Linked DNA regions of Homo sapiens. The protein of the gene in region 5 purifies or fractionates together with the protein of the main gene of each other region. This does not show direct contact. Each region holds a gene or a part of one and is shown on either strand. Other genes may lie near its edges. The genes, in order: GSTCD, NR2F6, MAN1A2, ARL6IP5, C5AR2, GUF1 and SLC12A7.

The links.
Region 1: the proteins of C5AR2 (region 5) and GSTCD purify together in Homo sapiens (affinity purification with mass spectrometry; 2 studies listed by BioGRID and IntAct, with this or other methods). This does not show direct contact.
Region 2: the proteins of C5AR2 (region 5) and NR2F6 purify together in Homo sapiens (affinity purification with mass spectrometry; 2 studies listed by BioGRID and IntAct, with this or other methods). This does not show direct contact.
Region 3: the proteins of C5AR2 (region 5) and MAN1A2 purify together in Homo sapiens (affinity purification with mass spectrometry; 2 studies listed by BioGRID and IntAct, with this or other methods). This does not show direct contact.
Region 4: the proteins of C5AR2 (region 5) and ARL6IP5 purify together in Homo sapiens (affinity purification with mass spectrometry; 2 studies listed by BioGRID and IntAct, with this or other methods). This does not show direct contact.
Region 6: the proteins of C5AR2 (region 5) and GUF1 purify together in Homo sapiens (affinity purification with mass spectrometry; 2 studies listed by BioGRID and IntAct, with this or other methods). This does not show direct contact.
Region 7: the proteins of C5AR2 (region 5) and SLC12A7 purify together in Homo sapiens (affinity purification with mass spectrometry; 2 studies listed by BioGRID and IntAct, with this or other methods). This does not show direct contact.

What each region holds. Positions count from the first base shown.
Region 1 is NC_000004.12:105,715,284-105,718,783, reverse strand, and holds part of GSTCD (glutathione S-transferase C-terminal domain-containing protein), read right to left. Parts: intron 1,192-3,500; 5' UTR 1,171-1,191; coding exon 745-1,170; intron 1-744.
Region 2 is NC_000019.10:17,235,920-17,239,419, reverse strand, and holds part of NR2F6 (nuclear receptor subfamily 2 group F member 6), read left to right. Parts: intron 1-3,354; coding exon 3,355-3,500. UniProt on the Homo sapiens protein: Transcription factor predominantly involved in transcriptional repression.
Region 3 is NC_000001.11:117,370,449-117,373,948, forward strand, and holds part of MAN1A2 (mannosyl-oligosaccharide 1,2-alpha-mannosidase IB), read left to right. Parts: intron 1-3,500. UniProt on the Homo sapiens protein: Involved in the maturation of Asn-linked oligosaccharides. Progressively trim alpha-1,2-linked mannose residues from Man(9)GlcNAc(2) to produce Man(5)GlcNAc(2).
Region 4 is NC_000003.12:69,104,265-69,106,592, forward strand, and holds the end of ARL6IP5 (PRA1 family protein 3), read left to right. Parts: intron 1-199; coding exon 200-372; 3' UTR 373-1,828; downstream 1,829-2,328. UniProt on the Homo sapiens protein: Regulates intracellular concentrations of taurine and glutamate. Negatively modulates SLC1A1/EAAC1 glutamate transport activity by decreasing its affinity for glutamate in a PKC activity-dependent manner.
Region 5 is NC_000019.10:47,330,896-47,334,974, forward strand, and holds the start of C5AR2 (C5a anaphylatoxin chemotactic receptor 2), read left to right. Parts: upstream 1-1,279; 5' UTR 1,280-1,454; intron 1,455-4,079.
Region 6 is NC_000004.12:44,677,210-44,681,219, forward strand, and holds the start of GUF1 (translation factor GUF1, mitochondrial), read left to right. Parts: upstream 1-1,210; 5' UTR 1,211-1,361; coding exon of another isoform or gene 1,362-1,376; 5' UTR 1,377-1,413; coding exon 1,414-1,578; intron 1,579-3,231; coding exon 3,232-3,343; intron 3,344-3,484; coding exon 3,485-3,633; intron 3,634-3,913; coding exon 3,914-3,994; intron 3,995-4,010. UniProt on the Homo sapiens protein: Promotes mitochondrial protein synthesis. May act as a fidelity factor of the translation reaction, by catalyzing a one-codon backward translocation of tRNAs on improperly translocated ribosomes. Binds to mitochondrial ribosomes in a GTP-dependent manner.
Region 7 is NC_000005.10:1,077,564-1,081,063, reverse strand, and holds part of SLC12A7 (solute carrier family 12 member 7), read left to right. Parts: intron 1-1,567; coding exon 1,568-1,666; intron 1,667-2,305; coding exon 2,306-2,363; intron 2,364-3,056; coding exon 3,057-3,231; intron 3,232-3,500. UniProt on the Homo sapiens protein: Mediates electroneutral potassium-chloride cotransport when activated by cell swelling. May mediate K(+) uptake into Deiters' cells in the cochlea and contribute to K(+) recycling in the inner ear.

The DNA.
Region 1 (3,500 bases), on a different chromosome or scaffold from region 5:
ATAAGCAGGGCTTCCAAAGCATTGCTATTTGAGCTCCTATTTATATGTAAACATTCCATTTAAAAATCAACATAACTAAAATAAAGAAAAAAGAGTTATTTTCTAAAAATGTCTCCAAACTTTATAAATTAAGACTTAAATTCTTATTTTTCAATACTGCACTGAAATATTGACACACGTAAAGGGTATATTAGCCCATTTGCATTGCTGTAAAGGAATAGGTGAGGCTGAGTAATTTATAAAGGAAAGAGGTTTATTTGGCTCATGGTTCTGCAGGCTATATAAGAAGCATCTGCTTCTGATCAGGACCTCAGGAAGCTTTTAGTCATGGTAGAAGGCAAAGGGAGTGCAGGCATGTCACATGGGGAGAGAGGGTGCAAGAGAGAGCAAGGAAGAGGTACCAGGCGCTTTTCAACAGCTAGATCTCTCATGAACTAATAGAGCAAGAACTCACTCATTACCCCAGTGAGAGCACCAAGCCATTTACGAGGCATCTGCCCCCACGACCCAAACACCTCCTACCAGGTCCCACCTCCAACAACATTGGGGATCACATTTCAACATGAAATTTGGAGGGGATAAATATTCAAACTATATCAAAGGGCTACTTTATTTCATTGGTTACTGGGGTTTTTTAAAATAAATAAACTTTTATTCCTAATAGGAAGTTAAAATATTAAATGGTCAGGTAATTATGTTATCACTGTGTAGCTTCAAATAACAGAAAAAAGACATTATACTTACTTCAGCACAGGCTTTCAAGCAAGTCTTTTTAAAGCCCAGAAGTTCCAAAAGTTCCTTCTTTAAGGGGTCTGCTTCATAGGATTTCTGGATTATGTGTCTCAATACAACAGCAAGTCCTGCTCTACAAAAATTGTCTGATCGTTCTACTACTGCAGGCAAACAGCAATTTTGGACTATTGGTGGGAGCTCCTGCCTTGAAATAATCTGTATTTCAACATCCTGGATCAGGTCATCTCTTAGTAGTGAACTATCTCTACTCACCTCTTTGGTGACAACTAAGCAAATTTTAAAGATTTTACAGTCACAGTAAGATAACAGAAATAAAGTTACAGATGTATGAAGAGGAAAGATGCATCCTTCTGTTTGGTGAGAAAAGTCCAGGTACAGGTATTCTTCTTCTGTAAGACTTTTCTTTATGGCTTTCATTTTCTTCTTTCATTGGGTCACCTAAAGTATAAATTGAAGTGATTATGGTCTTAGAATATAATCATTTAGAAGCTAAAATAAAAGATGAATGTTTCAAAAGCCTGTTCTAGAAATCAGTAAAAATTTGCAGTAGATAATAATGCTATAAGGTTTGTTTCTGAAGACTGACTAAATGACTTCCAAAAGAAAAAAATTCCACCCTGTGCAATTAACTAGCATTAGAGGAAATATTACACCCAGCTCCTTTAAAATGAGCAAACCCCAGTGCTTTGCAATAGAGCCCTCCCAATCAAGTATTTTGGGGTCTCACTATATGTGAGAACAGGAGATAAATAGAAGGGGAAATAAATTAACCAAAAATACTGAGAGCTGTCTGGGGATAATATCCTTGAGAAGTTTTGACAGTGCTGGTCCTTCCATACTGCTTCTTTTTTACGACCCTACAAAATAATAGGGAGGGGATATTCGTTCTTTCAGGAGAAGTGGATTCTCCTCAAGTAAGTGATAGCTGCTGAGTGCTGAATCATAATATAAAAATATTTAAATTTCCCCATAACATGGATACTGATAGCTATCTTAAAGTTAACCTGTCCAAAATCCAGTTCCTTATTCTCTCCCACCCCTCAAACCTGCTCCTTATGTGTCTTCCCATCTCAGGTTACACCATTCTTTTCCTTCACACCCCCATAACCAAACCCTCCAAGGTCTTCCCACCCTCCTTAGAGAAAAGCCAAAGTTTCTGCAACAGCCTACAAAAATCTCCTTGATCTAATCCTCCTTTATGTCTCAGAGTTTGTCTCATTAACTTTCTTCATTGCTCACTGCTCCAGCCAAAGTAGATTGTTATTCCTCTAAAACAGCCATCTCCAACATTCTTGGCACCACGGACCAGTTTCATGAAAGACAGTTTTTCCATGGGAGGTTGGTGGGGGGATGGGGATGGTTTCCAGATGAAACTGTTTCACCTCAGATCATCAGGCATTAGATTCTCATAAGGAGAGTGCAACCTAGATCCCTCCTGCGTGCAGTTAAGAGGGTTGGAGCTCCTATGAGAATCTGATGCCGCTGCTGATCTGACAGGAGGCGCCATTCAGGCAGTAATGCTGGCTCACCTGCCACTCACCTCCCACTTTGAGGTGGGGTTCCTAACAGGCCACAGATGGATACTAGTCCTGGGCCCAGGGGTTGGGGACCCTTGCTAAAACACTAGGTACATTCTCACATCAGGGCCTTTGCATTTGGTGTTTCCAGTACCTAGAACACTTCCTCACTTCCTTCAGGTATTTATTTATTCAATGGCAACTTCTTACTGAGATCCTCCCTGACTACTCAATTTAAATCACAAACCCCAATCCCCACGCTCCCTGAAAAAAACCTTTCTATTTCCATCTATGTTTTTTCTTCCTAGCGCTTATTGCTATGGTGATATACTATATGTTATTATTTGTCTCCTCTAACTAGAATGTTCCATGAGTAAAAATTTTTTGTTCACTGCTTTATAGGTTTATTATATATATAAGCAAGCAGTATTTGACAAATGAAAGCAGAGATAAATATACATACTGGTTAAAGGTGCAAACACACACAGTCTTGAGGTCAGATTCTTCATGGCTATTTTCAAGTCATATTCCTTAAGGTTTTTATCAATTGTCCTGTCTTTTTATGTTTATACATTTCCCGGGTCAAAAATTCCTAATGTTCTAATACATAAATTACAATTCCAAAACTGACACTAGATGGCACTCTTTAAAAGTATTCACCATGGAAATACGTACCAGAAACATGACATATTAGAAGGAAAATTACTTTAAAAGCTGTTAAAAAGTACACATGCACCTCTTGTCTTTTAAGTGTATTCAAAATGTTAGTGTACACTTAATTTTAGAAAACCTTCATCATACTAAATTTTCTTTAATATTTTAAATCCCTTTTTTAAAAAAATCTGAAACAAGACCTAAACACTTTAAGCTTCTTAGTTCTTCATTTTTTAAAACTAAGGAACTTGTAATCCATTATAAAAAATAAATATAGTCAGTAAAGTATTATCTAAGTTTCTTAATAATACAAATAATCACTACTGCTTTATTTTATATTTCTTCTATTAAAATATAACAGATATATACCATGATTTGTTACTTCTTAAAAGATTATCTGGGGGAAAATTATTTTATATACTGTAAAAGCAACAACTTTTTAACTTACAGATGCCATTTTCTCCCTGAGCTTATTTTTTAAAAATTTTTGTCACTGAGAGATAATTTTAAAACAAAAAGGTATTTATTAAAGATCAAAGTTCAAAGAGTTTTTTTATAAAGCTGAATAGAGCTCTG
Region 2 (3,500 bases), about 30 Mb from region 5:
CTCCCAAAGTGCTGGGATTACAGGCGTAAGCCACCGCGCCCGGCACGCCCACCTAATTTTTGTATTTTGTTTTGTTTTGTTTTTGAGACAGAGTCTCGCTCTGTTGCCAGGCTGGAGTGCTGTGGTGCCATCTCGGCTCACTGCAACCTCTGACTCCCTGGTTCAAGCGATTCTCCTGCCTCAGCCTCCTGAGTAGCTGGGATTACAGGCACATGCCACCACGCCCAGCTAATTTTTGTATTTTTAATAGAGATGGAGTTTCACTATGTTGGCCAGGATGGTCTCGATCTCCTGATCTCGTGATCTGCCCGCCTCGGCCTCCCAAAGTGTTGGGATTACAGGCGTGAGTCACCGCGCCTGGCCTAATTTTTGTATTTTTAATAGAGATGGTGTTTCACCGTGTTGGCCAGGCTGGAGTCTCCAACTCCTGACCCCAGGTGATCCGCTCGCCTCAGCCTCCCAAAGTGCTCGGATTATAGGCATGAGCCACCCCACCCGGCAGCTTTTTTTATTTTCTAGAGACAGAGTCCCACTATGTTGCCCAGGCTGGTCTCGAACTCCTAGCTTGAAGCGACCCTCCCACCTTGGCCTCCCAAACTACTGGGATTACAGGAATGAGCCACCATACTTGGCGTAAAGCTGTTGTTTTTTGGTCTAGGCCTTGGTGGGAGAAGCTGAGAGAGGCAGCTGAGGGGCTTTCTTTTAAAACTGATCACTCCCTGTGGCCCTTTTAAGTTTGGGGGTAACTTTCTTGTCCCTGCCCCCATAACATGGATTTTGCCTCTACTTGTCTATTTTACCTAAAATCCTCATATATCTCAAGTCATGGCCTCAGAGCAAACAGCCTCGCCAGAAGTCTCCAAAAGCCTCGGGTGGAAATATTTATGATGACAGCTCATGCTTTAAGCACACCTGCCTCGGGTCCTTTGCACGGGCTCTTCCCTCTGCCTGGAGTGCACTTTTTCCAGGTCCATACATGGCTCCCTCCCTAACCTTGCCTTCAAGGTTTGCTCAAACATCACCTCCTCAGGGAAGCCCTCCTGATCCCCCTGTATTTGACGCCACCTGTCTTGTTCTGTAATTTGCTTACACCCAGAATGTCCATTCCCTGTGGGCAGGTATTTTTGTCTGTCTTGTTCCCCAGCGCCTAGACCAGGGCTTGGTACACAGTAGGTGTTCAATAAATGGTCCTTGGCTTGAATTACCATGTAATTACCTTTCCTGTGTGGCAGGCATTATTTTAAGGTATAGATTCTCATTTAATTCAGTGATTGGTGACATCGTTTTTGAGACGGGGTCTCACTCTGTCTGGAGTGCAGTGGTGCGATCATAGCTCACTGCAGCCTTAAACTCCTGGGTTGAAGTGATTCTCCCACCTCAGCCTCCTGAGTAGCTGAGATTACAGGTGTTCGCTACCATGCTGGGCTAATTTCTTAATTTTTTGTAGAGACGGGGTCTCGCTATGTTGCCCAGGCTGGTCTCAAACTCCTGGGCTCAAGCGATCTTCCTGCCTCAGCCTCCCAAAGTGCTAGGCTTGCAAATGGGAGCCACTGTCTGCATTTTACAGATGAGGAAACTGAGGCACACAGCAGATTGGTGAGGCCATTTGTCAGAGAGCAACAGAGTTGTGATTGGGATTTGAACCTCCACAGTCTGGGCTGAAGAGCTGGGGAGGGGTTTGAGGAAGAGTGAACAGAAAGTGCAAAGGCCGGCCAGGCGTGGGGGCTCACGCCTGTAATCCCAGCACTTTGGGAGGCCGAGGTGGGCAGATCACGAGGTCAGGAGATTGAGACCATCCTGGCCAACATGGTGAAACCCCGTCTCTACTAAAAATACAAAAATTAGCCAGGCGTGGTGGCAGGTGCCTCTAATCCCAGCTACTCGGGAGGCTGAGGCAGGAGAATCACTCGAACCCCGGAGTCGGAGGCTGCAGTGAGCTGAGATTGTGCCACTGCACTCCAGCCTGGTGACAGAGCAGAACTCTATCTCAAAAAGAGAGAGAGAGAGAGGGAGAGAGAGAGAGAGGAAGAAAGGAAAGGAAAGAAGGGAGGGAGGGAGGGAAAAAAGAAAAAGAAAAAGTTCAAAGGCCCTGGGGTGGGAATGTGGCCATGTGAGGGAGTGGTGGTTGCTCACAACCCAGTGAACAAAGCGGGAGGAAGCTTCCTGGAGGACCGGGGAACCACTTTTGGGCCCCATCCACCTATCCCCATTTGACAGTTGACTCAGACTCAGGGACCCCTTGGAGCGGGCTTCAACCCATGCCCTGGCTTCTCCGCTTAGCTCTGTTCGCCCCTGGCTTCTGCTCGCGTTCCCCTCCGGTGTTTGCTCTACACAGAGTTGACCTGGAGTTCACGGAGGTGATGAGATGGGGCATGCCAGCTCATTAAAGCTCATTAATTAGTCTGCTGGCAACCAGCCCAGTCAGCCCTGCCATCCCGCCCACCCCGGCACAAGCCAGGCAGGCACATGGCCAACTCTCTTCCTCTTCATGCCTCAGTTTCCCTTTTCTCACCCACCTGGTCACTGCAGACGTGCCCAAGCCAGCAGCAGGGCCTCCCCGCTTCATAAGCAAGGCTACTGATGGCGGCTAATGTTTACTGAGGACCTATGGCAGCCCCCCTGGGACCCCTCCTTACTGTAGGTCCCCCCCAACCCTTCCCTGCACTGTAGCCTCTGCAGGGACCCAGACCGGCCCTCAGGGGTCACCATCTGGTGGGGAGGGGGATGGAAGGTAGAGAAATGATCCCTGTTCCATAGGAGAGAGCCAGTGCTGGGTGGGTATTGATCTGTTGCTTTGGGGACCAAGCTGGCCAGGGTCCCCAAGTCCTCCATGGCCCATCCTCAGCTCTGGGAACCCCATGACTATCTGTTAGGAGGCTCCAAAAGGTTTATTAGATGCTCCTCCTTGTCCCCAGGAGCTGGGGGTGGGGGGTGGTGGCTGGACCTAGACAGGGACTCCTGGACTCTTACTTTCTAACCAGCCTGGCGCCCATGGGGTGGGGTTGGGCATTCTGGGAAAGGCTGGGCCTGGAGGCTTTGGAGGGGAGGGCCTGAGTGACCCCTTGATGACTTTTGTCTCCCTTTCCCGTTATTCTCCCTACCTGCCCCCCCCCACCTGCCCCCCACCCCATGTCTCTATGGGCACCTACTTGGCCCCTCATCCCCCCTCTTCCGGCCCTCTCCTCTCTACCCCTCGCTTCCCTTCCTGTCTCTCCAATCTCCTCTCCTCCCGGCCTTCTGTGCCCCGCCCTCCCCTCCCCCATCTCCTGTCCCTCCCCCGTTTCCTGCTGCCCGCCCCCCCCCCCCCCGCCTCCCCTCCCGCCCCCATGTCCCTCCTGTCCCCGCCTCCCGCAGCGGTGCAGCGCGGCCGCATCCCGCACTCGCTGCCTGGTGCCGTGGCCGCCTCCTCGGGCAGCCCCCCGGGCTCGGCGCTGGCGGCAGTGGCGAGCGGCGGAGACCTCTTCCCGGGGCAGCCGGTGTCCGAACTGATCGCGCAGCTG
Region 3 (3,500 bases), on a different chromosome or scaffold from region 5:
TTATATCAGTTGACATTTGCTTTAGCGTATTATTTGCTGTTGTTTACTATATCAGAAAAGAGTCTGTAGTAATAAACTTTCTTTTACTTTGAGCAAGGAAATACTTTTTAAATTAAGTGTATGTTTAAAATGTGGAAACAGAAAACATCAAATGTATAAACATTAACTTATTTAAAAATAATTCAGAAAAATAGCACTTTTACAGTTGGTACTAAGATCATATGTATTTTGGGTATGGGTCAGAACTTACCTAATTTAGAAGAAACAAATTGACAGTTTATCTTCATTTAGTGTGTGTGTGTGTGTGTGTGTGTGTGTGTAAGGGTACAGGATAGAGGGCTGAGGAATGTTACTTTAACTAATAAGTAATGGAAAATAAGTCATGGTCACCATTTCTTATTTGCAGTACTTAAGAGATACTTGTTTAGTTAGTATTTCTTTATTAATAGATTAGTATAATAATTTGGTGTTTAAGTTCTGGAGTCAGACTGTATAGATTCATACCCTAGCTTGCCACTGATTAGATTTATGATACTGAGAAATTTTAAAACTCTATATTGTTTCCTTTGTATCACAGTGGCATGTATCTACTTTACAGATTGTTTTATTGAAAGAGATAGTACATGCAAAGCACTCAACATAGTTCCTGGCATTTAGTAAATGATCAATAAATGTTAACTATTATTATCATCAGTGATTATAATTGTAATGGAATATTTTTATTCGGAATCTACTTTCCTTTAAATACTGTATATTTTCTGAAAAGTAGGGTACAGTTTGATTAATATTTAGAAGTATACTAGGATCTTATTGTCTAAAGGAACATTTTATAACCAAACTGGTTGGCAACAAATGTATGCCTACTGTGGCAGGCCCCGCTTTCATGAAACTTTCAATCTAGGGAGAGATGATGGGCATTAAATAAATAATTTTGTTTTTGAGGTGTGATGAATGTTACGAAGTTGTACTCAGTGCTTTCAGAGCAAGGAATGTGTGACCTAGTCTATAGAGTTGGGGGTGGAGGGGCAGTGGGAATAAGGAAGACTTCATTGAGAAAGTGTGCCTCAGAAACGTAGAATGAGTAGGAGATTGCTTAATGAAGTGGAATTGGAGGTTGAGGGGAGGTTGAGGGTCAAAGCAGAAGACACAACATGTGTGAGAGCCCTAAGGAAAAAAAGCTTGGCATCACTAAGAATCTGAGAAATGTTAAGTATGGCTGTTGCAGAGGGTGTGGGTCTGGGTGATGAGACTAGATGAGAGGTCAGGTTTGGCCTGCTTACAAGTTTTTTGGCCTCCTTATTGTTGTTACAAAAGTTTGAATTAGTTGTCAGCATTCACAGATCAGGAGATTTCATGTTAAAGTCTGGATTTCTGATCTTTCTTGAAAAATTAGAGGTTATGGCAACATCCAGTGTATTTTCAGATGGTAATATTCAAGCCACAACCCAGTAGCAGCTGCTCCCTTGGGAGGGGGACGGGGGCGGGCATGTGCCACTCAGAGTGCGAAATAAGTAAATACAAATCAATCAATATTTAACCTGGTTGTTGTTGAGTTTGCAAATTCTAGTCAGGATTCTAGAGAGTTTGTAGTTAAATATTTTGGTTTTTATCATAAATACTAAGAGAAGTTATTGAAGGATTGTAATAAAAGCAAGGGAATGACATGATCATTTTAAATTAAAAAAATTAAATAATCACTTTGGTTGCAATGATTACTTACTGGATGGTAAGAAGCAGGAGGATAACAAGTTAAGAGGGGCTGGGTCACAGAGGATATATTGGCTTAGATCGCAGTGGTGATAGTGGAGAATGAGATAAATTAGTGGAGAAAAGTGGTTGAGTCAAGAGGTGTTAAACTATTAAGTTTCACAGAAAATGGTGGTTGGTTAAATATGGGGCCAAAATAGAAAGAAAAGTGAGTCCAAGATAATGTCTAGGTTTCTGGGTGACATGGCCATGGATTAGTAAGAAATACATACTATATTTAATTAATGCCCTAATTTATAGATAATAGTGGTATTACATGAATTTAGTATATTTTCATGAGGAAACCAATATGTTCCCTTCTATTAAGTAGTTCATAAATAATCCAGAATTTTCAAACACTGTAGATACACTTTATAGATGATAAGGATATATCAAATGTGTAGTTTGGTGTTGATTATGGTTATTTATAGTATCTATGATTTTGCAGTACCCAAAACCAGAAGTTGTTATAATATACATGTTGTTATACGCTAATATACATAAAGTAATATACGTAAGTATACTTTGTGTACATAATAGATCTCAATAATTAAAAACTTTTTTTTTTAAAACTGACATTTGTTTTATATAATGGCATTTATAGATGGGCTTTGTGAGTTAAAAAAAAAAAAACCCAGCTTATGAGCTGTTTATCTGAATAGCTAATAAGTTTCACCCTCCAGTCAGAACTTTGTTAGTCTGAATTGAATACTTGAGGGTCAGGTATATGTTTACCTTTGATACTTTCCTCAAAGGCATTGGAGTTATAAATAAGGCTGCATCTTAGTTCTACTAACTAGCTGTGTGGCATTGTGCTAGACGTAATCACTCAAACCTGTGCGCTGTCCAGTACCATAGCCACTAGTTATATATGACTATTGCACTTAAAATGTGGCTAGTCCAGGCTGCAGTGTGCTTTAGTGAGTTTCTCAAGTTCTTCATGTTATGATTCGTGTTTTTTTTTTGCTTGATTCAGTTTTGTTACAAGAGTAGAGATTTCAAATCTCACTATTGCAATTTTAATTTTCTTGTCATCTTTCTTTGTCTCATCCCTCTTCTGGACCTTTTTTTTCTATCCTGTTTTTTATTTGGGGCTTTCTGCTCCTGTTTGGGCGACGTCACATTGTTTTATGCACTAATATTAAAGTCTGCTGGATGTTCCATTTCCCTTATAAATTGCTCATGGTTATTTTTCCCACTTCCCTTTACTCAGACATGAATTATTGTGAGGTTTGTTTGTATTTGACGTTTGTCAACAACAGACTGGTGTAGATGCCTTTGCTGCATTTGTTTTTTTTTTTTTTTTTTGGGTACATTCTGTGGTCCAGGCTGGAGTGCAGTGGCACAATTACAGTTCACTATAGTCTCAAACTCCTATGCTGAAGTGATCCTCCTGTCTTAGCCTTCTGAGTAGCTGAAACTATGGGCATGAGTTGGGACTACAGGTGTGAACAACCATGCTAGGTTAAGTTTTAATTTTTGTAGAGATAGGGTCTTACTTGTTGCCCAGGCTGGTCTCAAACTCCTGTGTTCAAGTAATCCTTTTACCTTGGCCTCCCAAAGTGTTCGGATTACAGGTGTTAGCCACTGCACCCAACCGAATCTTATTTTTATCGATATGGATACTTTCAAATTGGAGCTCATGCCTAAGATTGGAAAGTTGGTAATGCAGAAGCTAAGTATCTTCTAGAAATCAGTAGTACATGGTAAACATTAATTGATTTTTTTTTTTAAGTGAAAGCAAGTTTATTAGA
Region 4 (2,328 bases), on a different chromosome or scaffold from region 5:
AAAAAAACTATGTATGACTTGATGGAGAGCTTTACATAAAGTCCAAGGAGCCATTTGAAAGCTTGCATCAATTCGAGAAGCAGACTGGACTGTGGCTAACTAAGGCAGTTTACTAATAGTGTGAAGAGAGGGAGTGTAATATTGATATGGCAAAAGAGAATTGTTGCTTTGGTGTTAACCAGGTGTCCCTTCTCTGCAGTGATGTTTATCCATGCATCGTTGAGACTTCGGAACCTCAAGAACAAACTGGAGAATAAAATGGAAGGAATAGGTTTGAAGAGGACACCGATGGGCATTGTCCTGGATGCCCTAGAACAGCAGGAAGAAGGCATCAACAGACTCACTGACTATATCAGCAAAGTGAAGGAATAAACATAACTTACCTGAGCTAGGGTTGCAGCAGAAATTGAGTTGCAGCTTGCCCTTGTCCAGACCTATGTTCTGCTTGCGTTTTTGAAACAGGAGGTGCACGTACCACCCAATTATCTATGGCAGCATGCATGTATAGGCCGAACTATTATCAGCTCTGATGTTTCAGAGAGAAGACCTCAGAAACCGAAAGAAAACCACCACCCTCCTATTGTGTCTGAAGTTTCACGTGTGTTTATGAAATCTAATGGGAAATGGATCACACGATTTCTTTAAGGGAATTAAAAAAAATAAAAGAATTACGGCTTTTACAGCAACAATACGATTATCTTATAGGAAAAAAAAAATCATTGTAAAGTATCAAGACAATACGAGTAAATGAAAAGGCTGTTAAAGTAGATGACATCATGTGTTAGCCTGTTCCTAATCCCCTAGAATTGTAATGTGTGGGATATAAATTAGTTTTTATTATTCTCTTAAAAATCAAAGATGATCTCTATCACTTTGCCACCTGTTTGATGTGCAGTGGAAACTGGTTAAGCCAGTTGTTCATACTTCCTTTACAAATATAAAGATAGCTGTTTAGGATATTTTGTTACATTTTTGTAAATTTTTGAAATGCTAGTAATGTGTTTTCACCAGCAAGTATTTGTTGCAAACTTAATGTCATTTTCCTTAAGATGGTTACAGCTATGTAACCTGTATTATTCTGGACGGACTTATTAAAATACAAACAGACAAAAAATAAAACAAAACTTGAGTTCTATTTACCTTGCACATTTTTTGTTGTTACAGTGAAAAAAATGGTCCAAGAAAATGTTTGCCATTTTTGCATTGTTTCGTTTTTAACTGGAACATTTAGAAAGAAGGAAATGAATGTGCATTTTATTAATTCCTTAGGGGCACAAGGAGGACAATAATAGCTGATCTTTTGAAATTTGAAAAACGTCTTTAGATGACCAAGCAAAAAGACTTTAAAAAATGGTAATGAAAATGGAATGCAGCTACTGCAGCTAATAAAAAATTTTAGATAGCAATTGTTACAACCATATGCCTTTATAGCTAGACATTAGAATTATGATAGCATGAGTTTATACATTCTATTATTTTTCCTCCCTTTCTCATGTTTTTATAAATAGGTAATAAAAAATGTTTTGCCTGCCAATTGAATGATTTCGTAGCTGAAGTAGAAACATTTAGGTTTCTGTAGCATTAAATTGTGAAGACAACTGGAGTGGTACTTACTGAAGAAACTCTCTGTATGTCCTAGAATAAGAAGCAATGATGTGCTGCTTCTGATTTTTCTTGCATTTTAAATTCTCAGCCAACCTACAGCCATGATCTTTAGCACAGTGATATCACCATGACTTCACAGACATGGTCTAGAATCTGTACCCTTACCCACATATGAAGAATAAAATTGATTAAAGGTTTTTTTGGTGAGACTTTATTTAATGCACATCTGTCTTAAATACCTGAGAAACTTGGCGACGACCCTATAAACAGTGAAGCAAACACTTCAGCTGTTTCAAATACTGTTTAGTAAAGCTTGAATACTTTATTAACTTGCAGCCAGAATAAAACAATTCCAGTGGGATCCTATTTTTAAACCTGGCACGAGTTTTATATACATGTTAGCCCAGTTTTATATACATGTTAGCCCATTCCATTTTCTACAAGGTGAATTCTGCCGATAAAATCCAATAAATTTGGAGAAACTAATAAAAAAAAAGATACCTGTAATTACTAATGGCCAGTAGTCAATTCTGGAAGGGTAATAACAGAAAAATGTAACATATAAATGTTGTAAATTATGATTACATTTAAAAACAAGCTAAAATCTGCAACTAAGATCTTTAGGGTTGGGTGGTAGAAAAAGCATAATGTGAACTGCTTCACCTCTTTTGGCAAAACCTGTGTATTGAGGCCATAAGCTATGAAATTGGATCATCTTTTCTT
Region 5 (4,079 bases):
AGTCTCACTCTGTCGCCCAGGCTGGAGTGCAATGGTGAGATCTCGGCTCACTGGAACCTCCGCCTCCTCGGTTCAAATGATTCTCCTGCCTCGGCCTCCCGAGTAGCTGGGATTACAGGCACGCACCACCACGCCCAGCTAATTTTTGTATTTTTAGTAGAGATGGTGTTCTGCCATGTTGGCCAGGCTGGTCTTGAACACTTGACTTCAAGTGATCCACCTGCCTCGGCCTCCCAAAGTGCTGGGATTACAGATGTGAGCTACCGCGCCCAGCCAGTTCTGTGCGTTTTAAATGTATCCAACGCTCATAGCAAACATCCACTGCACAGATGAGGAAGTTGAGGTTCAGAGGGGCTGAGGCCCTGAACTTTGATGAGGGTGTGTCGACCTGGAATATGAATCTCATCATTCTGGCCCTTGAGTTCTTGTTCTCAGCCACTGTGATATGCTGGAAGAGGTTAAGAATTGCTATCACGGCTGTGGCTCACTTCTGTAATCCCAGCCCTTTGGGAGGTCGAGGTGTGAGGATGGCTTGAGGCTGGGCAACACAGCAAGGCCGCACCTCTACAGAAAATTTTAAAAAATTAGCCAGGTATGTTGGTGCATGCCTGTAGTCCTAGCTACTCAGGAGGCTGAGGTGGGAGGATCACTTGAGCCTAGGAGTTTGAGGCTGCAGTGAGGCATAATGTTTTCACTGCACGCCAGTCTGAGCGACAGAGCAAGACTCCATCTCTAAAAAAAGTAAAGCATCGCTATGGCCAACAACATCTTCCCATTCTACAGATGGAAAATTGAGGCCCAAGAAAGGAGTTGTTTGTGCTTTTTCTACCACTGAGGCGTTGGGCCCTGCGCTCAGCTGCTGTGGTCTTTTTGTGGAGAATGTGACCCCAGGCTGTCTTCCTCAGAGCCGAGGAGGAGGGAGGGATGTTTGTCTGTCCTGAGGCTGCAGAAGGGAGGGGTTGAACACAGTTAGAGGCCTGGAGGTGGCTGGGGGCAGCTGGCATGTTGTGGGCAAACAGAATCCAGGCCAAGACCTCTAAGGCGTTAAAGAGCAAACCGCATGCAGGTCTGGCTTCCAGGAAGGTGGGACTTCGAGACTAGGGTTGGGGACTTGGGATCAGCCCTCCACCCAACCGAGCCCTCTCCTGCCCTGCCAGCCACCCCGTAATTTTGGGTTCTGTGAGTCACGGGAAGAAGACAGGACAAACACACCCTGAGAGCGAGACAAGGCCACTCCTATTTTGTACTGCTTATAAAGATTCACTGGGACTGGTGAGGTGGCAGTGCTCAGCAGCATCCGACAGGAGCCCTGGCAAACAGGACGGATTTCCAGGACTCTACCAGCTGCCAGACACGGCAGGGAGAGACCCCAGACCTCCTGGGTCCTGGCTGTGGGCCCGGATTGGGCTCCCAAGTGGCGTTTGACTCACGTGGGGACACTCTTGGAAGAGACGGTAAGGATGGAGGCTACAAGGGCGGGAAGGAGGGAGAGAGAGATTGCATGATCTTGGCTTCTCGGAATCATTACTTTCAGAATCTGGGAAGCAGAACTAGAGTTTGAGAAGTGCAGTCTTATTACAGCCACACTGGAACGCACGTCACAGTCCTGGGCTCTTGAATTAACTTGGGCAGCCCAGCAGCAAAGCTCTTGTCAAAGGATCTAAGCATTTTTTTTCTTTCTCTTTTTGGAGACAGGTTTTCATTCTTGTTGCCCAGGCTGGAGTGCAATGGTGCCATCTTGGCTCACCGCAACCTCCACCTCCCAGGTTCAAGGGATTCTCTTGTCTCAGCTGGGATTACAAGCGCATGCCACCATGCCTGGCTAATTTTGTATTTTTAGTAGAGATGGGGTTTCTCCATGTTGGTCAGGCTGGTCTCGAACTCCCGACCTCAGGTGATCTGTCCGCCTTGGCCTCCCAAAGTGCTGGGATTACAGGCGTGAGCCACTGTGCCCTGCCCAAATGGTTTTTCACACACAGATGTATGGGAAACAGCCTCTCTCAAACCTGCAGGAATTCCTGCAGCTTTCGGCAGATCCACCAAACTGTAGCATGTGTAGCAAGCAAGCCCTTTAACTCAGCGATTCCAATTCTTTTCTCTTTCTTTCCTTTTCTCTCTTTCTTTCTTTTGACAGGGTCTCACTCTGTCTCCCAGGCTGGAGTGCAGTGGTGCGATCTTGGCTCACTGCAACCTCCGCCTCCCAGGTTCAAGTGATTCTCCTGCCCCAGCCTGCTGAGTAGCTGGGATTACAGGTGCACGCCACCACACCTAGCTAATTTTTGTATTTTTAGTAGAGATGGGGTTTCACCATGTTGGCCAGGCTGGTCTCCAACTTTTGACCTCAGGTGATCCACCTACCTTGGCCTCCCAAAGTGCTGGGATTACAGGCGTGAATCACCGTGCCTGGCCCCCTCAATGTTCTATCACAAAATCTGTCCACATTCTTGTGTGGTGTTTGTTCATTCTCATCGTGTAGAATATTCCACAGGGTGAACACCCCATGATGTGTTTATCCATTCTGCTGTGGGTGGCTATTTGGACGGTTTCTCATCTTGGGCTGCTGTGAACATTCTGGCACATGTATTCTGGTGAGCATATGTGTTCTTTTGCGGAAAGGAGGCTGATTGCTGGGTCGTGAGGGAGGAATCCTAGAAGATGGATGTTCAGGAATAAAGAATGTTCAGACTCCTTTTTTTTTTTTTTTTTTTTGAGATGGAGTCTTGCTCAGGCTGGAGTGCAGTGGTGCGATCTCGGCTCACTGCAACCTCCGCCTCCTGGGTTCACGCCATTCTCCTGCCTCAGCCTCCTGAGTAGCTGGGACTACAGGCGCCCGCCACCGCGCCCAGCTAATTTTTTGTATTTTTTAGTAGAGATGGGGTTTCACCATGTTAGCCAGGATGGTCTCGATCTCCTGACCTCGTGATCCACCTGCCTGGGCCTCCCAAAGTGCCGGGGATTACAGGTGTGAGCCACTGCGCCCGGCCAGCCTTCTTTGATTCTGCTCCAGGGTTTTCCAGAGCAGAGAACCCAGCAAGACTGGATGCACAGACAGGCGTGCACCAAGAGGCACATGTGAGGGTGCTTGCAATCACAACAAAAGAAACCTAAGTGACCACTTAGTCTCTCTGTGCCTCAGTTTACTCTTTTATCCTTTCACTTACCAAATATCGACCATGCCTGTGCTGTGTGCCAGGTTCTGTCCCAGATGCCAGGGACACAGCGGCACCCGAGGCTGGAAGGAGCTGATGTTGTGGGATATGAGGATGATAATATTGACCTCAAGGGTTTGTGTTGAGGGTTATATCTTGTAGGTCATAGGTGCTCAATAAAAGCCATCTATTATTTTAATTATTATGAAATAATAAGAAGGGTACCTATGATTTAAAAGCTAGATATAAGTACAGACGCTCTTTGACTTACAATGGGGTCCCATCTCTATCAACCCATCGTAAGGCTGGGCACAGTGGCTCACGCCTGTAATGGCAGCACTTTTGGGAGGCTGAGGTGGGAGGATTTCTTGAGCCCAGGAGTTTGAGATCAGCCTGGGCAACAGAGTAAGGGCTGTCCATACAGAAAAAAAAAAAAAAATTAGCTGGGCATGATGGCGTGCACCCGTAGTCCCAGCTACTCCAGAGGCTGAGGCAGGAGGATCAGTTGAGCCTAGGAGGTAGAGGCTGTGGTGAGCCGAGGTTGAACCACTGAACTCAGCTTGGGTGACTGAACAAGACGAAAACACAAAACAAAAGCCCCCAACATTTTCAACATAAGTTGAAAATATTGTAAATCAAATTGGATTTAATACACCTAGCTTACTGAACATCATAGCCTACTTTTTTTTTTTGAGACAGGGTCTCACTCTGTTGTCCAGGCTGGAGTGCAGTGGCGCGATCTTGGCTCACTGCAGCCTTGACCTCACGGGCGTAGCCTACCTCAAATGTGTTCAGAACATTTACATTACCCAACAGCAAGACAAAATCATCTAAGCCAAATCCAATTTTTTTTTTTTTGAGATGGAGTCTCACTCTGTCACCCATGCTGGAGTGCAGTGGTGTGATCTCAGCTGACTGCAACCTCCACCT
Region 6 (4,010 bases), on a different chromosome or scaffold from region 5:
AATTAGTCGTCTATCAAGTACTGTTTTAATTCATAAAAGTTCCAAGAAAGGGCCAGGCGCGGTGGCTCACGCCTGTAATCGCAACACTTTGGGAGGCCGAGGTGGGCAGATCACGAGGTCAGGAGTTCGAGATCAGCGTGACCAACATGGTGAAACCCCGTCTCTACTAAAAATACAAAAATTAGCCATGATTGCTGGCGCGCGCCTGTAATCCCAGCTACTCAGGAGACTGAGGCAGGAGAATCGCTTGAGCCCAGGAGGCGGAGGTTGCAGTGAGCCGAGATAGCGCTACTGTACTCCAGCCTGGGCGACAGAGCGAGACACCATCTCAGGGGGGAAAAAAAAATCCAAGAAAGAACTGAGTCTGGTACAGAATTCTTGATCCTAAGAAATCCTCCAAATGAAGAAACTTTCAAAGGCTCTGGAAACAATACGAATGATTCTGTCTTCAGTCACAATGATGAACTGAACACAGCTGTCATCTCCCTCCTTCGCACCAAATTCTGGATATTCCAGAAAAGCGCAAGAGAAATAGTGGGAGACAAACACTGGATGCAATCCTCCTATCACCTGTTTTATCCCCCATTCTTACTTCGTCAGAGCTCATTCCATGAAGTGGTAACTTGATGACGATGGAAACATTGGGGGTCCAGCATGGAACTTTTTCCCACCTTTACTTCTTGCCAAAACCTTCCTGGATTCAGTATTGCAATCAATGTTATGGCCCGTTTCCTTTCAGATGCACTTCAAGATTAGCTCTGTCACTGACAACATGGGGAATACATTTCGACCTCCAGATTTTAAAAGTGCCATTATTATTTTGCCATTAGGTAGAAGGCTAAGTCTCAACGTTGTGCTAATAATAGCATCTTTAAGTCCCTGGACTAAGACCTCGGCTCCTGGTTCGGGAATCAGACTGCCTGGGCGGCACTCCAGGCTCCACAGCTCCCCACCTGTGAGCTCCTGGGCAAGTCACTCGGTCCGGATTTCCAGAGGTAGTTTGGGGGAACTGACAGTACACACACCACAGGGCAGTAGTAAGAAAGAGACAATGCAAAGGAATTGGCACAGCACTCAGCAGACAATATAAGCTAATATGTACTCTGTCTACACCCTGCGTTTTAGGGAGTCAATCGAAAGCCTCCACTCACGTGACCACTCCACTACCCGGCGCCAAGACGCGCTGATGTCACGACAGCGTGCGGCGTGCAGACGTCGGCAAGCTGCGCCGCCGCTTCGGGTTGCTTCCGGATCTGGTACTTGGGCAGAGCTCCCCGGGGTTCATTGTCTTCGCTTCACAGGATCTGTTTGAGTCCTGTCCACCGGATCCTACGGGGGGTACCTTCGAAAAAAAACGGGCTATGCTGCTGTTGCGTGTGGGTACCCTCTCCTGACGCCTCCGCCGCCCGGGTCATGTGGACCCTCGTGGGTCGGGGCTGGGGGTGCGCACGCGCTCTCGCGCCACGAGCCACTGGGGCCGCGCTTCTGGTGGCCCCGGGGCCCCGGTCCGCGCCGACCCTTGGGGCTGCTCCAGAGTCCTGGGCTACCGACAGGCTCTACAGCTCCGCAGAATTCAAGGTGACTGCCCCCTGGAATCTGATTTAGCCAAGTTTTCAAACGTTGGAGTGCCCCATGCGATCTTGGACATGTATAGGGCTTTCTGGGACTAGCTCTGAACCCTGCTTGCAACTTGGTACAGGGAGGCAGAGCGGAGAGTGTGAGCACTGCTCAGGTTCCCGACCCTCCACTCCTCACTAGTGTGACCTTGGGCAAGTCACTAACTTTGTAGGTTTTCTCATTTTCAATGTCAAATGTTGATTTGTTTACGCGAGCCACTGGTCGAAGTGCTTTGCGTTTATTCATCTATTTAATTCTAAAAAGCCTACTAAGCAAGTTGCTAGTAAATATTAATATAACGTCCATTTTCCTGCAAATTAAGTAGCTATGTGGCCTGGGCAAGTTACTACATTGTCACTCTCCTACTTCATTTGTTGAATGCAGAACTGATCAAACATCCAGTGGCTAATTTGTGAGATTTGTGTGATGTGAGAAGTGGACTTTTTTAGACTAATACCTAGAATGCAGGAAGTTCTCGGTCTGTCTTTGTAGTTTTATTTCATTCTACCTCAGCCAGAGCAAACCTGTGTAATTTTGACTCTGGTGGGAGAGGGTGGGAGGTTCAACAACTCTGATAATTGTGAATGGATACATTTTAGTCAGAAAAGTGAAGTGACTGAAGGCAAGCTATAAGTAGGCAGAAAGACAAAACCTTAAATTAATCAACTTTGGCCCTAATATGCCTGTGTTTTTAAAAATGGATTTATATTGCAATTCGAAGTATAAAGATGGTGCAATTCTCTATACCTTTTGAACTGAAGGGAAAGAAAATCTACAGGGCAAACATCAGAATTAGTTTTTTTTCGGCAGACTTTCAGCTATAATTGTGCTTTTATTATCTGTCTTTATGGGGCTATTAAAAAACAAAGCTCACGTGAATTTTATATTTCATTGTAATTTCATGGTTTTGCTGATTGTGAAATATGCAGTTGATTGGAAAAAAATAGAGTACAAAAAACTGGTATATTTTGCTTGATAACAATTTCTAGCAATTTGTGATGTGTTTCAGTAAAACGTTAAAGAAGATGTGTACACGAAAAACCAGGAGTTCCATTTTAAAATATTTTTAAGTTTTAAGTGATAAGTCTTTTGTTGGATGTCATCTTTTTTTCTTTCTCACCAGAGAAGCTGCAAAGTAGCAAAATTGTATTTAAAATAAAATTTTGAGGCTCCATTAGAGACACAGATTTTTAAATAAATCTGATTCCTGATTAAATGTGTGATAGGAGCAGAAAATTTATCTTCTTTCAGCTTTTCTGTAGCTCCATTGCCTCAAAAGTTTTACTAGACAAGGTATTCTCAGGCCTTTAGAAGTTCTAGGTGTCTCATGTTCTCCATTCACGATAATAAATTCAGTTCCTGATTGGCCCTAAAAATTGTGTAGAAATGTTAAGGGATTATGATTTAGCTGTATAGTTACCTTTGGCTATTAAACTGATGTTCCTTGTAATATGAACTTAGCCATACATGTCTTTTTCTTAGAATAATAATATAAACAATATAAATGCTAGAAATGATATTGTTCAACGATTAAAAGAATATTCTTTGAATTGGTATACTTGTTTGATAGTATGCCAAATTTATACTCCTAAATGTGGTATTTCCCCTTTCTAGGAAAAACTTGACATGTCTAGGTTTCCTGTTGAAAATATTAGAAATTTCAGTATTGTTGCACACGTGGATCATGGCAAAAGTACTTTAGCTGACAGGCTCCTAGAACTTACAGGTATTTCATTTATGTTACATACTTAACTGATGGCTGCGAGTTATTGGGAATTACTTTTACTCTTAAATTTTAATTTTATAAGTAATATTCTCTTTTTTTTTTAAAGCCCAGAGAAATATCAATAAGTGTTTCTGTTTATAGGGACAATTGATAAAACAAAGAATAATAAGCAGGTTCTTGATAAATTGCAAGTGGAACGAGAAAGAGGAATCACTGTTAAAGCACAGACAGCATCTCTCTTTTACAATTGTGAAGGAAAGCAGTACCTTTTAAATCTCATTGATACACCGGTAAGTTTAATATTAATTTTGCATGTATTGTTAAAGTCAACATTGTGTCAGTAGTGCAAACAGATCCTTGTTTAATTTTTGAACTGAGTATTAAACATCTGCCTTTGCTTTTTGTTTTCTCAGTGTTCTTATGTTAGTGTCAGTTGTTTCAAAAGTGCAGGCTACAAAAAAGAAACGAATATTTAACAGCTTTTATCAAGTAAAGTCAATAAATTTGCCATAATGCTCTTTCCTAAAAAATTAACTCACATTTACAGGTATCAATATTTTTGTTTCTCAGGGCCATGTTGATTTTAGTTATGAAGTATCCAGGTCACTTTCTGCTTGCCAGGGTGTTTTACTTGTGGTTGATGCAAATGAGGTAGGTATTTTTCATT
Region 7 (3,500 bases), on a different chromosome or scaffold from region 5:
CTCTGTCTCCCTCTTCTTCCCTCCCTCCCTCTCTCTCTCTCTGTCTGTCTGTCTGTCTCTCTCTCTGTCTCTCTCTCTGTAGTGTGTTCCTTCCTGCCCCTGCTTATCTTGCCTGTTTGGCTCAGGGGAAGTGGCTGAGGTCTCTGCCCTGCGTCCTGATGGATTTGTGAGAAGCCTGTCTGCTGCTCTCCCAGGCAGCCCTGTGTCAGGAGAAGCTGTTGTAGGGTTGCTGGGAACACCTGGCAGGCTGTTAGGAGACACCTAGGAGTGGCCTCAGTGTGAGCTCAGAGGCCGGGGACCTCGGCCCTCTGTGTCCTCCTCAAACAGTGGGCCTTGTTCCGGCGGTGGGTGGGGCCCTTGGTTGTTCCCCAGGGGGTGGGGCCAGGCCCCGTGCTCTTCGAGTCGCACACACACGCCCCCGGCTGTCTCCACTCGGCCTTCTTGTCGGGACGCCCCTGACAGGCGCTGGCTGCTTGTGCAGCCTGCAGCTGCCCTTCTGGTCCCTTCTGGTCCCTCCCACGTCTGCTCCCGGACTTCATCTCAGCACATCCGAAAGCCCTGGAGCCCAGGGTCAGCTGCAGGGCCTGGCCACAGCGCTGGCTTCTCGTGTTTCCCTTGCCTCCACTGAAGGTGGGCCCGTCTTGCTATGGAGGGGGTGATCTGCCGGGGGTCCTCTCCCTGTACCTCCGCTCCAGCCTCCCCCGTCCGTCTGAGTGCGCTCCGCGCCGTGGGTGGAGGGCGTGGGGGCAGAGCCTCTGCGTGGCTCCTGGTGTCTCCGCGCCGTGGGTGGAGGGCGTGGGGGCAGAGCCTCTGCGTGGCTCCTGGTGTCTCCGCGCCGCGGGTGGAGGGCGTGGGGGTAGAGCCTCTGCGTGGCTCCGGGTGTCTCTGAGCCGCGGGTGGAGGGCGTGGGGGCAGAGCCTCTGCGTGGCTCCGGGTGTCTCCGCGGCACTGGATTGTGGGCTCTGCTGCCTCCCAGGCCACCCCGAGCAATGGGTGCTTCAGGCTGCGCCTTGGATGGGACCGAGCCAGGCGTGAAGTGGCCCCCACCGACCCGGCTTCCCAGAGCTTTGTAGGAGCCGATTGTGTGGAAACATCCCCGGCCGTGGCTCCCTAGAGCAAGGTGGTGCCACAGCGGGAGGGGTCGCAGCGTCTGCTGGCCTGGCTGGCTGGGCTGAGTCGTTCTAGGATCTCATTCCCAAAGTCCTTAGGTCCTGGGGGCCTGTGAGCCATTGCTCAGCACCGTCTCTGGGCTGACCCTTGGCCATGGGATTAACACAGGCTCCAGAGAAGCCCTGGGTGTGGGGGGCGTGGGGGTCAGTGACGGGGTCGGTTCTCGTCCTCGGATCCAGGGGAGCAGTAGACGTGGGTGCTCATCCGCGTGCCTGGGCCCGCATCCCCTCAGCCGCAGTATTGCAGCGTGGGCTGGCGGAGCTTGGACTGCAGCCTCGGCTGCAGCTCACGCTCGGGGTCTCCCCAGAGACCGCCTTTCCAGCTTTCTGGGCAGGGGCTGCCATCACATGGCACTGACTCCTCAGATGGGTCTTTGCAGCATTTTCCATGTTCACAGGTATCATGGCGGGTTCAAACCGGTCCGGGGACCTCAAGGATGCACAGAAGTCCATCCCCACGGGGACCATCCTGGCCATAGTGACGACGTCTTTCATCTGTATCCTTGGAGGGGTGCAGGCGAGGGTTCCAGCCTCTGCCTGGGGGGAGGCCCCCATGCCCTCCCCGGCTCAGCATCATACCCTCGGCCACCAGCATGTGACTTCCCAGGTTAGGCTGTGCTCTCACCACGTCATCCTCCCTGGGAGACGGGGCAAGGGCTGCTGTCAGGACCCTGGCTTCTTCACCACTGTGTGATGCGATCGTAGAGAAAACAGAAGCAGTCACCCTGCCGCGTGTGGACAGTGATGCGCAGCGGTGTGTGGGGTGTGCCGCCGGCAGGCTGGGCCCGCGGGGCCTCTGGCTTCTCAATCCCAAGGCTGCCTCTTTCCAGCCGAGCATTGTCCCCTCAGCATGGTCCCCTGCCAATCCCTGGCGGTCAAGCACCAGGCCAGGTGTGTGTCCACCACCCCAGGGCCCCGTTCTGTGGCGCTGGACAGAGCCCCAGGAGGGTGCGCTGAGGACACGGGGGACAGGACGTGCCCGGGATGGGATGGGATGCAGAACGGTCCCCGCCCACCTGGATCCTGCGGCCCGCTGGCCAGTGCATCTCCCCACCCACCCCACCCCACCCCACCCCACCCCCCGTACCTGAGGACCCTGCACCCACGGACCTGCCTTTCCTTGACGAGGGCTGTGGATCTCTCCTGCATTGTGCTGTTTGGGGCCTGCATTGAAGGCGTGGTCTTACGAGATAAGTACGTTTCCACCTGCAGTTTTCGTGCAAAGCCTGTAGTCTTCAAGGGTTTTCCTGAGGATGAATTCGGCTTTGAAATTACATCGCCCTAGGACTTCATGTCCGCGTGCAGAGCTGAAGGCGTCCTGGTCCCAGGGTTGGGATCCCTTGGTCTGATGTGTCGTCTCTTCCGCTGGAGCCTAGGGCCTGGGGAACCGTTCAGAGCCAACTCCAAGCCCTGATGCGGCTGGGGGCGCAGGCCCTTCCTGGGGAGGCCACAGGGGTGTGGACGGGTGAGGCTTGGCCCTGGGAGATCCCTCAGCCCTGCTGGCAAGTGGAGAAGTAGTGGGGTCCCAGGCAGGTCATCACTGACCCTGCATCCTCATGGGGTGTGCGTGTCTGGCAGCCCCAAGGCCCCGGGGGTCCTGGGTGGTCCCTGACTGAAGCTGATGCCAGGCTGGGTCTTCCCTGCTCCCAAGAGCGACCCTGAGGTGAGCAGGACCCCCTCCCCCGCTGAAGACCCTCCAGAGCATTCTGGCCATGCTGGGCAGAGCCTGGTGGAGGTTTCAGCCAACGGGGACTGGAGGCCGGGCCTCAGCTTTCCAAGGAGTCGCCCCCACTGCACTGGGCCCCTCGCTCTGGGTGGGAGAAGACATTTTGTCTGACTCAGGCTCACTTCTGAAAGCCGCCCGCCCGCCTGCCCGCCTGCCTGCAGGTTCGGGGAGGCCCTGCAGGGGAACCTGGTCATCGGCATGCTGGCCTGGCCCTCCCCCTGGGTCATCGTCATCGGCTCCTTCTTCTCCACCTGCGGTGCCGGCCTGCAGAGCCTCACGGGGGCACCGCGCCTACTGCAGGCCATTGCCCGTGACGGCATCGTCCCCTTCCTGCAGGTGAGTCCCGCACCCTCGTCGGGGGGACCCTGGAAGGTCAGGGTCGGGGGCTCTCCTCCCCTGCGGGATCCTCACAGTGCCGTGTGTGGGACGCATGCCCGCGGCTTGGACCCCATGGTGGTCATTCTGCCCCTGGCCACTGCACAGAGCATGGGAGTGGTGGGAGGTGGGTGGTGGGCAGAGGCAATTCTAGCCCTCCTGCCTGCAGGTCCCTCCGAGCTCGGCCCCGGGTGTGTCAGGAGCGGCTGTGAGGGCCCACAGCCACGTGT